4 linked regions of the Homo sapiens genome follow. The protein of the gene in region 2 interacts with the protein of the main gene of each other region in a biochemical or structural test. Each region holds a gene or a part of one and is shown on either strand. Other genes may lie near its edges.

Region 1 (3,500 bases), on a different chromosome or scaffold from region 2:
CTCTCTTTCATCTATTCTATTACTCCTTCTTCTTTCCTCTCTATTGCTGATCACCTCATTATTAATGTAACCGAGTCAATTTCGCCTCAAACTATTATATTTGATGCTTGCCTTGTTATACCCTGTGGAGACTTGACACGTCGAAGCAGCTCTCCACTCCAAAAAAGTACCTCTGTCCTTCCTGGCTCTGCTCAGACTGGATATTAGTGAATCGGGATCATTTAGTCTGGAAAGGTTTCAATAAAGACCCCAATGTCAACTGGGAGTATTGCCCCCCACACCCCGCCAAGACAGAGCTTTTATGCTGCAGTTGGTCCAATGTTCTGTAGACCAATAAAGAGCACAGATGGACTGCCCCAACCAGTAGTTGTAAACGTTCTGTAGACCACTAAAGAGCACGGATAAACTGCCCCAACCAGTAGCTGTAATTTCCTAAAGCCATACATTCACTTTACTAAAGAAACAGCTTCCCCTAGCTGTGAGCTAAACCAGTACTGTCCAATACAGGTTATTATCTCAAACCCTCCAAGTTCTTCCCCTTCTATAAGCCGGTTCCCTTCTTTAAGCCAGTTTTATGGCATGGGGGCTGAGGTTTCAGGAACAGAACCTATTGGATCCTTTGAAATATGCTGCATTGATCCCCTACTGCCTACACTTTCCCCTAAGCCTTCTTCCAAAACCTCTCACAACAAAACTATTGCTCCTCCTCCATCTAATGAAAAGACCAAGGTAGCTATTGTAGAAGTTAAAGACCTAAAACAAACTTTGGCAACTGAGACAGGATATCAAGATGTGAATGCTCTTAAATTTAAAACTCGAGATCAAATAGCTGCAGGATTTGAGTCAATATTTTTGTGAGTGACAACTAATAAAAACGTAGATTGGATAAATTACATTTATTATAATCAGCAGTGGTTTATAATTACACCACGGATGCTGTCAAAGGGTAACAGAACAATTGGGGCCCACTAGCCAGATGGCCTGAGAAAACAGAATGGCCCTAGATATATTAGCCAAAATAGGGGATGTTTGTGTTATGATTAAAATTCACTGTTGTACCTTTATCCCAAACAACACTGACCCCACTGGGAACATAATAAGCGTCTTACAAAGACTTACCGCTTTATCCAATGAACTAACTAAAAATTCTGGAGTCGATAACCCTTTCTCAACATGGCTAGAGAGGTAGTTCAGTAAATGAAAAGGAATCATAGCCTCAATCCTTCTCTTACAGCCATTATAGGTGTGCTCATTCTTACAGGATGCTGTATCATACCCTGTACTCATAGTTTAGTGCAAAGACTTATAAAAACAGCTCTCACCAAAACCTTCCTCAGCTCTCCTCCACCTTATTCAGATAAACTCTTCCTTCTCCTAGACATGCATTGTGTCATAATGGATAGCCTTTCCCTTCCAGCCTAGACAGCTGGGTTCAATTTCAAACATTAGTCAACTGGGTCACTTTAGATTGTGCGGTCCAACCCTAGCCAGTAGGGGAAAGACACAACAGTGGGGACCAGCTGTGTTAAGAATAAGAACCTCTTCCCCTCCCTTGTCCATCTCACGATTGCTCCATCTGCAAGACACACCCTTCTACAGAAGTAAACTGCCTTGCTGAGAAAACTTTTGCCTGAGTGCTATTTTCACTTTGCAACACTGAACATTCACTTCCAACAATCACATCTCTAATAACTGCTAAGTACAACTAACTTGCTTAAAATAAGTGATACATAATGTACAAGTACTTGACCAGACAGCGAAAGAAGGCAAATACAGGTTGAGAGGCCTTTATACAGAATGCTTGACACCAGACTGGGATTTTTTCAGATTTGCAGATATTTGCCTTTTTACCTACTGGTTGAGCATCCCTAATTCAAAAATCTGAAACATTCCAATGAGCATTTATTTCGAGTGTCATGTTGGCACTCAAAGTTTTAGATTTTGGAGCATTTCTGGTTTCCAGATTACAGATACTCAACCTGTATAAAATATTCATAGCCACTAGATTTCCAAATGTACGGAAATACCATAACAACCAAATCAGCAGTTAGAAGACAAAAATGAGTTCAAAATGGCATCTCAGGAATGACCTCCTTGAGAGCAGGGCATACATCACCTGTACACTAGGTACCACACCCAAGATACTTAAATGTGTACTGAATAAAAGAAAAATAAAGGTAAGGAAAAAAATAAGAATGAGACTGATAATTTCTACTTGGAATGTCATCTATTAATTCCTACTTATAAACCTTCACAACATGGACCTATTTCTCTAGGTTAAAAACAGGTTGGGCAAGGCGGCTCATGCCTGTGATCCCAGCACTTTAGGAGGCCAAGGCAGGAGAATCACTTGCGCCTTGGAGTTCGAGACCAGCCTGGCCAACATGGCGATACCCTGACTCTACTAAAAATACAAAAATTACCTAGGCATGTGGCACGCACCTGTGATTCCAGCTACTTGGAGAACCTGGGAGGATGAGGTTGCAGTAAGTGGAGATTGCACCATTGCACTCCAGCCTGGGTGACAGACACTCTGTCTCAAAACAAACAAACAAACAAACCCCAAAATCCCTAGTACACTGCTATGGTGTAGCATATGTACCAAATCTTTTTTTTTTTTTTTGAGACAGTTTTGCTATTGTTGCCTAGGCTGGAGTGCAATAGCGCGATCTCAGCTCACTGAGACCTCCACCTCCCAGGTTCAAGCAATTCTCCTGCCTCAGCCTCCCAAGTAGCTGAGATGACAGGTGTGCGCCACCATGTCCCGCTAATTTTTGTATTTTTAGTAGAGATGGGGTTTCACCATGTTGGTTAGGCTGGTCTCAAACTTCTGACCTGAAGTGATCCATCCACCTCGGGCTCCCAAAGTGCTGAGATTACAGGCATGAGCCACCGTGCCTAGCCTCAAATCTTTACTATCTATTAATACTACTATTAGTCTTATCATGATATTCAACAAGCCTAATTTAAAAATCAAAGGTTAATCTATTGACTTGTTTCCTCTTTTGATCCACTATCTAATGAATACATTCATTGCACTACACAAGCTGTTTCGTTTATGCATATGTGTGTTAACACTAACTTATTTTGATGTTGCCTTTTTCTCCTAAAGAGCAAACTAAAAGAATAAAGGGCCCTAATTCAGCATTTCTCACAAAATGCTAATTTCATACAATGTGCTACACAAAGCAAAACAAATGCTTTATGTGGGAGATTTATGGGGGAGATGGTCAAATAAGACAGAAATACTAAGTAAAAATTGTAAAAGGCTTCTGCAAGACTTCTCATCACTTTAGTAAATATTATGCCTTGTGAATTTCAAAAGGGGAGCAGGGGATGCCGGTCATTCTTCTCAACTGATGTGGTCCTCCTTAGATCTTTCCACACTAAGTTTGTGAATAGATGAGCTCATATTTAAATGAACTGCTATCTAAAGATAATGAAAATAAACGTATTTGTAGTCTCACTATTAACATTTGTCAAAAATCTAACCACATTGA
Region 2 (3,500 bases):
CTCCTTTAATTTTACAGAGGAAAGTAATCTCCTAATATTGTTAAAAGAAAGGGAGAGAAACAGGGTAGCAAAGGGGTACAGACTGAGCAAAAAAGGGGGAAAAAAAAACTAAACGGTTTACAAACCACAGAGCAAAGCAGAGAGCTGCAGAGTGAGTCAGCAGCTGTGTCTGGTGGAAACAGCATCCTGGTGCAAAGCCCTGCAGCCGTCAGCTGATGAACAAGGGCAGTAAATACAGCCGTGAGGGGCCCCACCAGTACCATGTGGCAGTGGTTTGGGGCCACTTTCTCTAGAAGCCAGGGGTGGTGCAGAAGATCCCGTGTGCATGGCCTGGACCCTCTGCAAGGCAGCAGGTGTGTCCAGCAGGTGTGTCCTGAATGGAAGTCTCTGCCCCGAGGCTCAGTGAGGCTCAGGCACCACTTACTGGAGGGGCAGGAAAGCATGGTGGTAGGGAGCACCAACTTTGGAGTTGCCACTGCTTCAGCTGAATCCTGCCTCTGCCCTTTGTGGGACGTTTGGCAACTCTCGCAGCTCTCTCTGCCTCAGTATCGTCATCTGTAAAGTGGGGGTGATGGTAATAGTACTATCTTGCAAGATCATGGTAAGGATGAACTCAGTACTTGAATGGTCTTGTCAGAATTTCTTTGGGCTGAAAATCAGAGTTTAAGGAAAGATAACACTCCTCTCCTATAGCCAGGAAATGCCTAAAGAAAGAGAAATACTGTTCAATTGGCCTATTGAACCATGAAGAAGCTTGAAACGGTGCTATTCTTGGGCTGACTGATATCCTCTGAAAGCTTACTGTGTGCCATGCACCATTCTAAACGCTTTACATGTATTGGTTTATTTAATCCCCACAGGAATCATGTGATTAGTCCATTGGAGAAGTGACGAAATTGGAGCTTAGAGAGGTAGACTGACTTATTTTGCTTAGCGTTGGCAAGGGTTGAAATCCAGACTCTAGGCTGCCATGCTTAATCACTGCGCAAACTTGCTTTCAGGCCTGGTTTATGCACACCTCTGTAGCCTCCTCAGGTCCTTTCCATGTTGTCCCCTCCCTGGGGGACTCCCACTGGAAGACTGCACACTGCCACCTCCTAACAAATGGGAAAACATCCCTAGCCTGGTCTGTCGTTCTGCAAGAGGCAGGATGTATTTTCATGTGCACCATTGAAGAGTATCCAGTTAGCATCAAGGAAGCCTCTGAACATAACCCACCAAAGCTCTTTCATTAGAGGAACCATGTTAGATAGATTCTCAGCTGCTCTGATGGGATGTAAAGGAGCTGTGTTGCTTATAACCGATCCATGATATCAGAATGCAGGGACACACTGTTCTCAGCAGGAAAAGTGATGTCCAAAGTACACATCAAGTGAATATTTGGGATAGAGATGTTGGGATGCTGACATCATCCTGTGCATTCATACTATATGATGCAATCTTTCCACTTAAAATGATGAAAAGGAATTTGTATTGTATGAAGAGCAAAGACAGCAATTTTTAAGTGATGAAAGATTTATTTATCAGAGAATAGAAAAATAGAATCAAACAGGAAGAAGCATTGTCATTAATACAAAGATAAAAGACATTCTGGTTTCAGGGGAAAAGTTCACATGAGCACAACAGACACAAACCTAAAGATAGATGGAGAGAAAGTCAAATTCATCAGAAACTAAATGAAATAAATCTTTATCTTAAAGTCACTTGCCTGCAAATCAAAGATGGGATGTTGCCATTTTCTCCAGGCCCATTAAGAACAGTCTTAATGGTATGAAGCACAGTCCTCCTTCCCCAGGCCTGTGATGAGTTTCCGGTCTCCTTGCTCTGAGCTCAGGTCCCTCTATCTACAAAGGGCATCCCCGGGCTGCTGGGCCCAGGGCATATGCAGTGTTCCCTTGTGAAAGCTGGCACTTTGCTTAGGAGCAAGTGACTCAGGCCCTATTCTACAAACAAGCCAAGCAGTACCTTTGGGCTGTGACAACGTGGTCATGGACATATATGTTTCATTTGGCCAATGTGTGAGTGCAAAGGCCAGTTTGGTCTTCTTTGGTGCAGCTTGACTCTTTCCTCCTCTTCCTTCCTGACCTCAGATTCATCGCCTGCACCTAAGCAGTTATGACCCTGAAAGGAAATCCTTGCTTTCTATTCTCACAGTCCGCATTTTGTAAGACCTCCTCTTCCCTTCATACTTAGTCAGTGGCAGAGTAGGGCAAGAAAACAAAAGTAGACTTTGCAGACAGAGTCAGGTTTCTAACCTGACCTCCCTTATCATTGGCTGTGTGACACAGGAAAAGTTACTTAACTTCTCTGGACTTCTAATTCCTTTTCTGTAGGATGGAGATAGTAACCTCCCAGGGCTGTTATGAGACACAGAAGGGACCACAGACATTCTATGGGGGGCATTCTGCGGGATGGGAGCTGTTTGATTGTTATTTCACATGATTGTATTAACATTCCCAGAGTGTTTCAGCTTCCGTCATTTTCTTTTTTCTAATCTATCCTGAACATTGCTGCCAGATCAGTCTTCCTGAAGCATGACTGATAATAATCATCTCAAAACATAGTCATTATTTTTATTTGAATGGTTATATGGCAGAGTTGCAAATGAAAAGCTGAGCAGAAGGCTGAGAAGAGACCACAGCCTCAGGAGCCTGGGCTACTAGATGAAAGCCAGCATGAGCAAAAAGGGCCTGTGGCTCTGTGTTTGGGACAATGTTGTAACTACCTGTGTCCATCTCTCCACGGACCAAAAGCACCCTGAGCTAAAGGACTATATCTCATTATCCTTGGCATTCATGTATGCAACAAATAATTATTGAGCACCTAGTCTAGGCCCCAGGCTAACTAGTTTTCTTTAGATTTTCAGCTGTGTAAAAAAAATTCATTGAATTCATTAACATTAACCAAAATTTAACTTCAAAAATACAGATGTTCAATAATGATAACATTTCGTGTTTTCAATGTGTAGATTCTCTTGCAGGGATGTACACTGATTAAATCTTAATTATTCCATTTCGAACCTTATTTTGGCCTCAACGTTTAGGAAATACACATTCCATCTTGTGCTTGCAATATGCCTGTAACATCTTGGCATTTGAATTTGCAGTTGGGAATATGCAGCATAGGCTATGAATTTCTGAAGCTGGTGCCAGCACAGCTGGTTCTGATCTGAATACAAACAAATAAAACTATGTGGTTGGCACTGAAACACTAGGACAGGTGACAAACCTTGGCAATGCACTGGTTACAAATGGGCTAATTAAGAATCTGCACTTTCTTCTAGCATCGAAGTTCAGAAACAGACCATCGAAGATGAGCCTGAATTTGAAGTCTTGTGGTTGTATCAAGGCTCTCTTTTAAAAAATACTAGTTATTTTATCTGCTTGTATAATGGGTTGAATTGTGTTCCCTCAATTCCCTATGTTGAAATCTTAACCCGCAGTATCTAAGAATGTGACCTTTTTTGGAGATAAGATCCTAAATGAGGTAATCAAGTTATA
Region 3 (3,500 bases), on a different chromosome or scaffold from region 2:
TTCTTAAATATAAACTGACTAAAAATATGCAAATAGATCATTTCTGACAACAAATGATCAATGCATAAAACTGCTTGGCAACTGGCTGAGCGCGGTGGCTCACGCCTGTAATCCCAGCACTTTGGGAAGTCAAGACAGTTGAATCACTTGAGATCAGGAGTTCAAAGCCGGCCTGGCCAACATGGTGAAACCCTGTCTTCACTAAAAATACAAAAATTAGCCAGACATGGTGGTGGCACGCCTGTAATCCCAGCTACTTGGAAGGCTGAGGCATGAGAATCGCTTGAACCTGGGAGGTGGAGGTTGCAGTGAGCCGAGATCACAGCACTGCACTCTGGCCTGGGCAACAAGAGAATCGCTTGAGTCTGGGAGGCAGAGGTTGCAGTGAGCCAAGATCACGCCACTGCACTCCAGCCCGGACGACACAGTGAAACTCCATCTCAAAAAAAAAAGGCGGGGGTTGGCAACTATGAAAATAAAAAATGAGAGAACATACCAAAATGAGTAACCAGAGGTCAAAAACAATGAAGACTTGAGGCAAAGAAACGTCTATGCTAATAATCTCTTCCAACTTCAATTATGACCAAAATGAACAAATCCTGTTCCAGCCTAATCCCTTCCCAGTTTGGACTCATAGTTCAATACATTCAGATGTGAAGACAAAGAAAAAAGGGATACTGTCTGCTAGTGACTGAGCAAGAAGAGACTAGGACTTCCTATTGGCCACACAAAACTGCCAAAAGCTGGCACTCTTTAACCCATTTAAACCCTTAAATATTCCAATTTCCACACTGTTGTGCACATCAATAGTTTCTGCCTTTTTATTACTGGGTAGTATTCCATTGTACTACAGTGTGTTTATCCATTCTCTAGCTGAAGTACATCGAGCTGTTTGCAGTGATTACAAGTAAGGCTACTGTAAACATTTGTTTAGAGGTTTTTGTGTCAAGACAGGTTTTAATAACACTAAGGCAGGCCGGCACGGTGGCTCACGCCTGTAATCCCAGCACTTTGGGAGGCCGATGTGGATGGATCACCTGAGGTCAGGAGTTCGAGACCAGTCTGGCCAATGTGGTGAAACCCCATCTCTACTAAAAATACAAAAATTAGCTGGGTGTGATGGCGCGCGTCTGTAGTCCCAGCTACTCGGGAGGCTGAGGCAGAAGTATCGCTTGAACCCGGGAGGCGGAGCTTGCAGTGAGCCGACATTGTGCGACTGCACTCCAGCCTGGACAACAGAGCAAGACTCTGTCTCAAAAAAAAAAAAAAAAATTTCCTTCCCATGACTAGCACAATCTAAACCTGAAGTATGATTTCAGAACTATGCTCATACTTAGAGCCAATAATTTTCTGGGTGCTTCCATTGCTTGTAGGCCCCCTAACATCTTGATTGCAGCAGTAATGGGAAGGAGGGAACCAGTTTAGACAGCCACTTTCCCCAATTCCTCCAGACTGTGCGAAACCACAGGACAAAGGTTCTGCAACAAATGAAGTGCAAGGAAAAAGAAAGAGACAGGAGGAACCTATGAACTGAAAAAGATTTAAGAGATAAATCATTAAATCACAATGTACTGTGAAATGAAAAAGATATAAGAGAAACCAACCAATCAAAATGTTATCAGTTTTCTTGGAAGCCTGACTGAAACTGAAAAACAAAGTTTAAAAGAATGGGTAAAACAGAACAGTGACTAGATATTTTATTATTTTAATTTTAGGTGTAATCATGGTATTATCTTTTTAAGTCCCTACACAGAAATACATACTGAAATATTTATGGATAAAGTGGTATGTCTAAGATCTGCTTCAAAATAATGGGAAGAGTAGAAGTGACCAGTGTACAAATTAAACAAAGCTGGCCTAAGCTTGTAACTGTTGAAGCTAGGTGATGAGTATATGAGGGGTTCATTTTACTACTCACGGTAGTTTTTTTTGTTATTTTGTTTTGAGACAAAGTCTCACTCTGTTGCCCAAACTGAAGTGCAGTGGCACGATCTCGGCTCACTGCAACCTCCACCTCCTGGTTCAAGAGATTCTCCTGCCTGAGGCTCCCAAGCAGGTGGGATTACAGGCACGCACCACCAAACCCAGCTAATTTTTTTATTTTTAGTAGAGATAGGGTTTCACCATGTTGATCAAGCTGGTCTCAAACTCCTGACCTCTGGTGATCCATCCACATCAGCCTCCCAAAGTGCTGGGATTACAGGCGTAAGCCACCGTGCCCAGCCTACCCTAGTGTTATTAAAACCTGTCTTCACACACTGTGCCCGGCCTGTTGTTTTGTTTTTCTGAGACAGAGTCCTGCTCTGTTGCCCAGGCTGGAGTATAGCGCCAGCCGCTCTCTACTTTTCTGTATGTTTGCAGTCTCAAGCAATCCTCCTGTCTTGACTTCCCAAAATGCTGGGATTACATGCGTGAGCAACCCCTGGCCTCCTGTATTTTAAAACTCAGACCTACATATCAAGCTCTTGAGAAAAACAATTCATATCACTGATAGCAGAAGGTCACATCTGATAAAACTATTTAACTGCTCCCCACCAATTCTGTCCCTCTGATTTCCCCTCCTGTGCCTTTTCTTCTTTTTTTTTTTTTTTTTTTTTTTTTTGAGACAGAGTTTCACTCAGTCGCCCAGGCTGGAGTGCAGTGGCGTGGCGTGATCTCAGCTCACTGCAACCTTCGCCTCCTGGGTTCAAGCGATTCTCCTGCAACAGCCTCCCGAGGAGCTGGGATCACAGGCTCACGCCACCATGCCCGGTTAATTTTTTTGTACTTTTAGTAGAGAGGGGGTTTCACCACGTTGGCCAGGCTGGTCTGGAACTCCTAACCTTGGGTGATCTGCCCACCTCAGCCTCCCAAAGTGCTGGGATTATAGGTGTGAGACACCATGCCCAGCCCTTTTCTTCTTTCTAAGCCTTAGATCCTGCTAAACCCAACTTGTAGCACTTCTTCCTCCTTGATTTTTATTTTTCATTTTTCGTCTGAATTATTTTCAGTGTTCTAATCACTGCTCATTACATGTTACACAGATACTGCCCTCAGATGTTAATGTCTCACCTACACCTTTCAGTCTGGTCCCTAAGTGATATCTACTCTCCTTCAGCCAGATATAACCGGTGAACAACTATTTCCAAAATACAAGGCTTCTAAAAGACATCACAGAAAAACAGGAAGTATATTCTGAATCCCAACCCTCAGCTTTTTCATTAAACAAAACTCCAATAGGACAACTAACTATAATATAAATCATTTTACTGAACACTACAAACAATACTGATAAATTGATTCCTAAATGATTAATTCTATTAAAAAAAATTTCAAGGCCAGGCATCGTGGCTCACACCTGTAATCCTAGCACGGTGGGAGGCCAAGGCAGGACTGCTTGAGCCCAGGAGTTCGAGATCAGCCTGGGTAACATAGCGAGACCCCATCTCTAAAAAAAAATTGTAAAAATTAGCCAGGCATGGTAGCACACGCCTGTAGTTGTAGCTACTCAGGAGGCTGAA
Region 4 (3,500 bases), on a different chromosome or scaffold from region 2:
ACTGTATTACTTGTTTTTCAGCTTTCCTTGGTACATTCTTAAATTTCTGCATTCCGCCACCATGCTATCACCCTAATGGATCAACCTTTTTTGTTTTGCTCCATTCTCTCTGTTGTAAATCTGAAATTGATAATTTGTTTGTCTCAGAAAATATTATTTTTCAAGTTCTAGCGTATTGCCTACAAAAACCAAAAGAATTAAGTGTCTGACACTGTGAGGTTCAGCAAAACTGTGCATATATTTTGCTACCTGATTTTTTGCCAGCAAATGAGTGTTTTCTATTATAAATATAGTATATATTGCTTAAAAATTTGGAACAGAAAAGAAATTACTCCAATTAGGATGCCACCTAAAGTATAAGCATGTAGCTGTACTTTGAGAACACTAAATTGCATGCAGGTTTGTAGTGACTAGGTCTTCTTGCCTTTACTGAAGGAGCAGAATGAAGTCACAGATAATGGATAACCAAATCCATTTTGTGGTAAGAACTTCCTTACTTTCAATGTCTTGAAGAGATGAAGTATGTTACCAAAGGAGATTGGGTTTTTTAATATTACAGATGAGTGACATAGATTGTTTGGGAGTAAGTTTTTATATGTAAGTTTTTATGTTTTTAAACACATACTGACAACTTATGACAAACCTTTGGAAAGTTTTAAAACTCTGTTGAAAGGTTGTGCAAGCTGCTGATGGAATCTGTGAGCCTTTCTTGTTTCTTATCACGTTTTTTGGCAGAGCACATTTCTTCCTTCCCACCAACAGGTTTTGCCCTTTTTTTTCCCATTAAGATTCCTCCTGAGATTGGCTGTCTTGAAAATCTGACATCTCTGGATGTCAGTTACAACTTGGAACTAAGATCCTTTCCCAATGAAATGGGGAAATTAAGCAAAATATGGGATCTTCCTTTGGATGAACTGCATCTTAACTTTGATTTTAAACATATAGGATGTAAAGCCAAAGACATCATAAGGTTAGATAATTTTTTTCTATTTGGTTTTACTAAATTTATTTCAGATTTTCTACTCTCTGTGACTTTGATGGACATATATTGTTACTATTTAGGGAAAAATAAATAGTAATATTTGGCATTAATATGCTGTGTGTCATTTGCCTTTCATTTAATGAATGTGTTTCTGTGGTGCCACTGTAGAGATTTCTCATTCTTCTTAGCCAGACTAATGTTGAGAGCGGCTTCTCCTCCTTCTGTTTCTTTTCAGTGGAGTAGACTCTAAAAGAAAATAAGTATTGCTATTTGGTCTCTGGTTACCAATTACACAATCTAAAGAAATACAGCACAGTATAATAACTTCTCACACTGTATTTCATATAGCAACTAGTTAACATATGCCTCTTACATCTTAAAGCATTATAGCTACTGACATCATGTGAAATTACTAACTTCTATTTTGCCCATTAGGATGAGTAATCTACTCACCTTGATCAGTTTTGAAAGCACCAAAACTTCTCAAGTATCACTGTTTCTGGTCTTTACACTTTAAGCACTTTAAATATCTTTGGTAATGGATTTTATCCTCCTTTTTGTTCCCTTTCAGCACATCGGTCTTATTACTTTCTCATAAAATCCTTTGCTCCCTTTTCCACAGTTACTGTATTAACGTTGCAGACCTCAGCTCTGTCATCACCTCTCAACTTGACTGTAATATCCACCAAGGCAGAGACCATGGCTGTGTTCACTCACTATTCAAATCTTGGCACCCAACACAGTGCCTGGCATACAATTAATAGTTGTTTAATTACCAGTGATTTATACTTACTCATTCTCTTCTGCCTAAAATCTCTTAAATTTATATTTAACTTCATCTGTTTTTATGAGGAAGGATTTTGTTTTCTGAACTCCTGAGCTTGATTTCATTTTAAAGGAGTTTGTTATCTTTTGTGCTAATTGTGGCTACCCTTCATCCTACCCAATTATTTTTCTCTCTTGAAACTGGAAAAGATGGTCATATAAAAATTGGTTCAGTTCTTACTAAACATTTAGTAGAACTAGCTTTCAGTGTATTATACTGTATTATCTAACTAAATATTTTTAATATTTAATATTTAATTTAATATATAACTAAATATTTTTAAACATGTTTAACATTTTCAGAAAAGACAGAAAGACCTAGAGCAGATTAGAAATTGTAGGCATCATTTGCTTTTTGAAGAAAGACATTTTTTCAAATAGTGGTGCATTCTTAAGAAATAAATCAAGAAAGGTAATGTTGCTTTTTGGTCATATCATCAGGAATGTTGGTCAGATTCTTATTAGTTACAGGAATGAATTGATCACTACTCTGATGTAAAATTCACTTATGATTTAGTCTTTTTCTCTAATTTGAAACTGTGGCAACATTTTAACATATTTCAAAATATATCTTTCTCTATCCATTATATTTTTGATAACACTTTGACTCTACTATTAGTTTAAAGGTGGTTTTTTAGCTACCTAAACACTTCTATTTCATTCAGGTTTTACATTAAGATCATTAGGAATGAAAGCTAACATCTGCTGATAGTATAATAGTTTATATTTATTTATGATGTTATGTGATCTCACTATCCATATATACTATTATATGCATATGTGATATACATGAATATATAGCTATACATCATATATACCATATATGAATATATACACACACATATATAATGTAACTAATATGACCCTATTATCAAGCTTTAACAGTATACATATATCTCTACCTTGTTTCTATGTCATATGGACTTTGTGAAATTTTGAACTTTATAATTTATAGGGTTTTTCTTTTCTTTTCTTTTCTTTTTTTTTTTTTTTTTGAGACTGAGTTTCACTCTTGTCACCCAGGCTGGAGTGCAGTGGCCTGATCTTGGCTCACTGCAACCTCTGCCTCTTGGCTTCAGGCGATTCTCCTGCCTCAACCTCCCAAGTAGCTGGAATTACAGGCACCTGCCACTGTTCCCGGCTACTTTTTGGATTTTTAATAGAGACGGGGTTTCACTATATTGGCCAGGCTGGTCTCAAACTCCTGACCTCATGATCCGCCCACCTCGGCCTCCCAAAATGCAGGGATTACAGGTGCGAGCCACCGCACCTGGCGTATAATTTGTAGGGTTTTTCATACTATTTAAAGACATTAGAATATGTATACATGTATGTATATGTGTGTATATATAGAGGTATATATATATTGCATATCGTATTCTAATTAGTATTGCAAACATATTTTGGCCTTTTGATTATTTCTGGTGATAGTGTAACATGTTTTCTTTGGTGATTTTACCAAACATTATCAACTACCCTAAAATCTCTAGCAAAATATATGCATTAACAGTACTCTGAAAGACATGTACATTATTAGTTATATGAGATATGCACTCTTCTGGATACTATATTTTAGAATAGTGTGACATGTAAAAGAACTCACCTAAATCTCAAGTATACTTTTAAGCAGTTTATTATTTTATTTTTATCTTTCAAATACTAGGTTTCTTCAACAGCGATTAAAAAAGGCTGT

What was found.
Region 1: the proteins of ERG (region 2) and PRPF40A form a complex in vitro, tested with the Homo sapiens proteins (one large-scale study listed by BioGRID).
Region 3: the proteins of ERG (region 2) and SF3B1 form a complex in vitro, tested with the Homo sapiens proteins (one large-scale study listed by BioGRID).
Region 4: the proteins of ERG (region 2) and LRRK2 interact on a protein array, tested with the Homo sapiens proteins (one large-scale study listed by IntAct).

The regions. Positions count from the first base shown.
Region 1 is NC_000002.12:152,707,462-152,710,961, forward strand, and holds part of PRPF40A (pre-mRNA-processing factor 40 homolog A), read right to left. Parts: intron 1-3,500.
Region 2 is NC_000021.9:38,386,978-38,390,477, forward strand, and holds part of ERG (transcriptional regulator ERG), read right to left. Parts: intron 1-3,500. UniProt on the Homo sapiens protein: Transcriptional regulator. May participate in transcriptional regulation through the recruitment of SETDB1 histone methyltransferase and subsequent modification of local chromatin structure.
Region 3 is NC_000002.12:197,428,529-197,432,028, forward strand, and holds part of SF3B1 (splicing factor 3B subunit 1), read right to left. Parts: intron 1-3,500. UniProt on the Homo sapiens protein: Component of the 17S U2 SnRNP complex of the spliceosome, a large ribonucleoprotein complex that removes introns from transcribed pre-mRNAs.
Region 4 is NC_000012.12:40,304,997-40,308,496, forward strand, and holds part of LRRK2 (leucine-rich repeat serine/threonine-protein kinase 2), read left to right. Parts: intron 1-788; coding exon 789-970; intron 971-3,470; coding exon 3,471-3,500. UniProt on the Homo sapiens protein: Serine/threonine-protein kinase which phosphorylates a broad range of proteins involved in multiple processes such as neuronal plasticity, innate immunity, autophagy, and vesicle trafficking.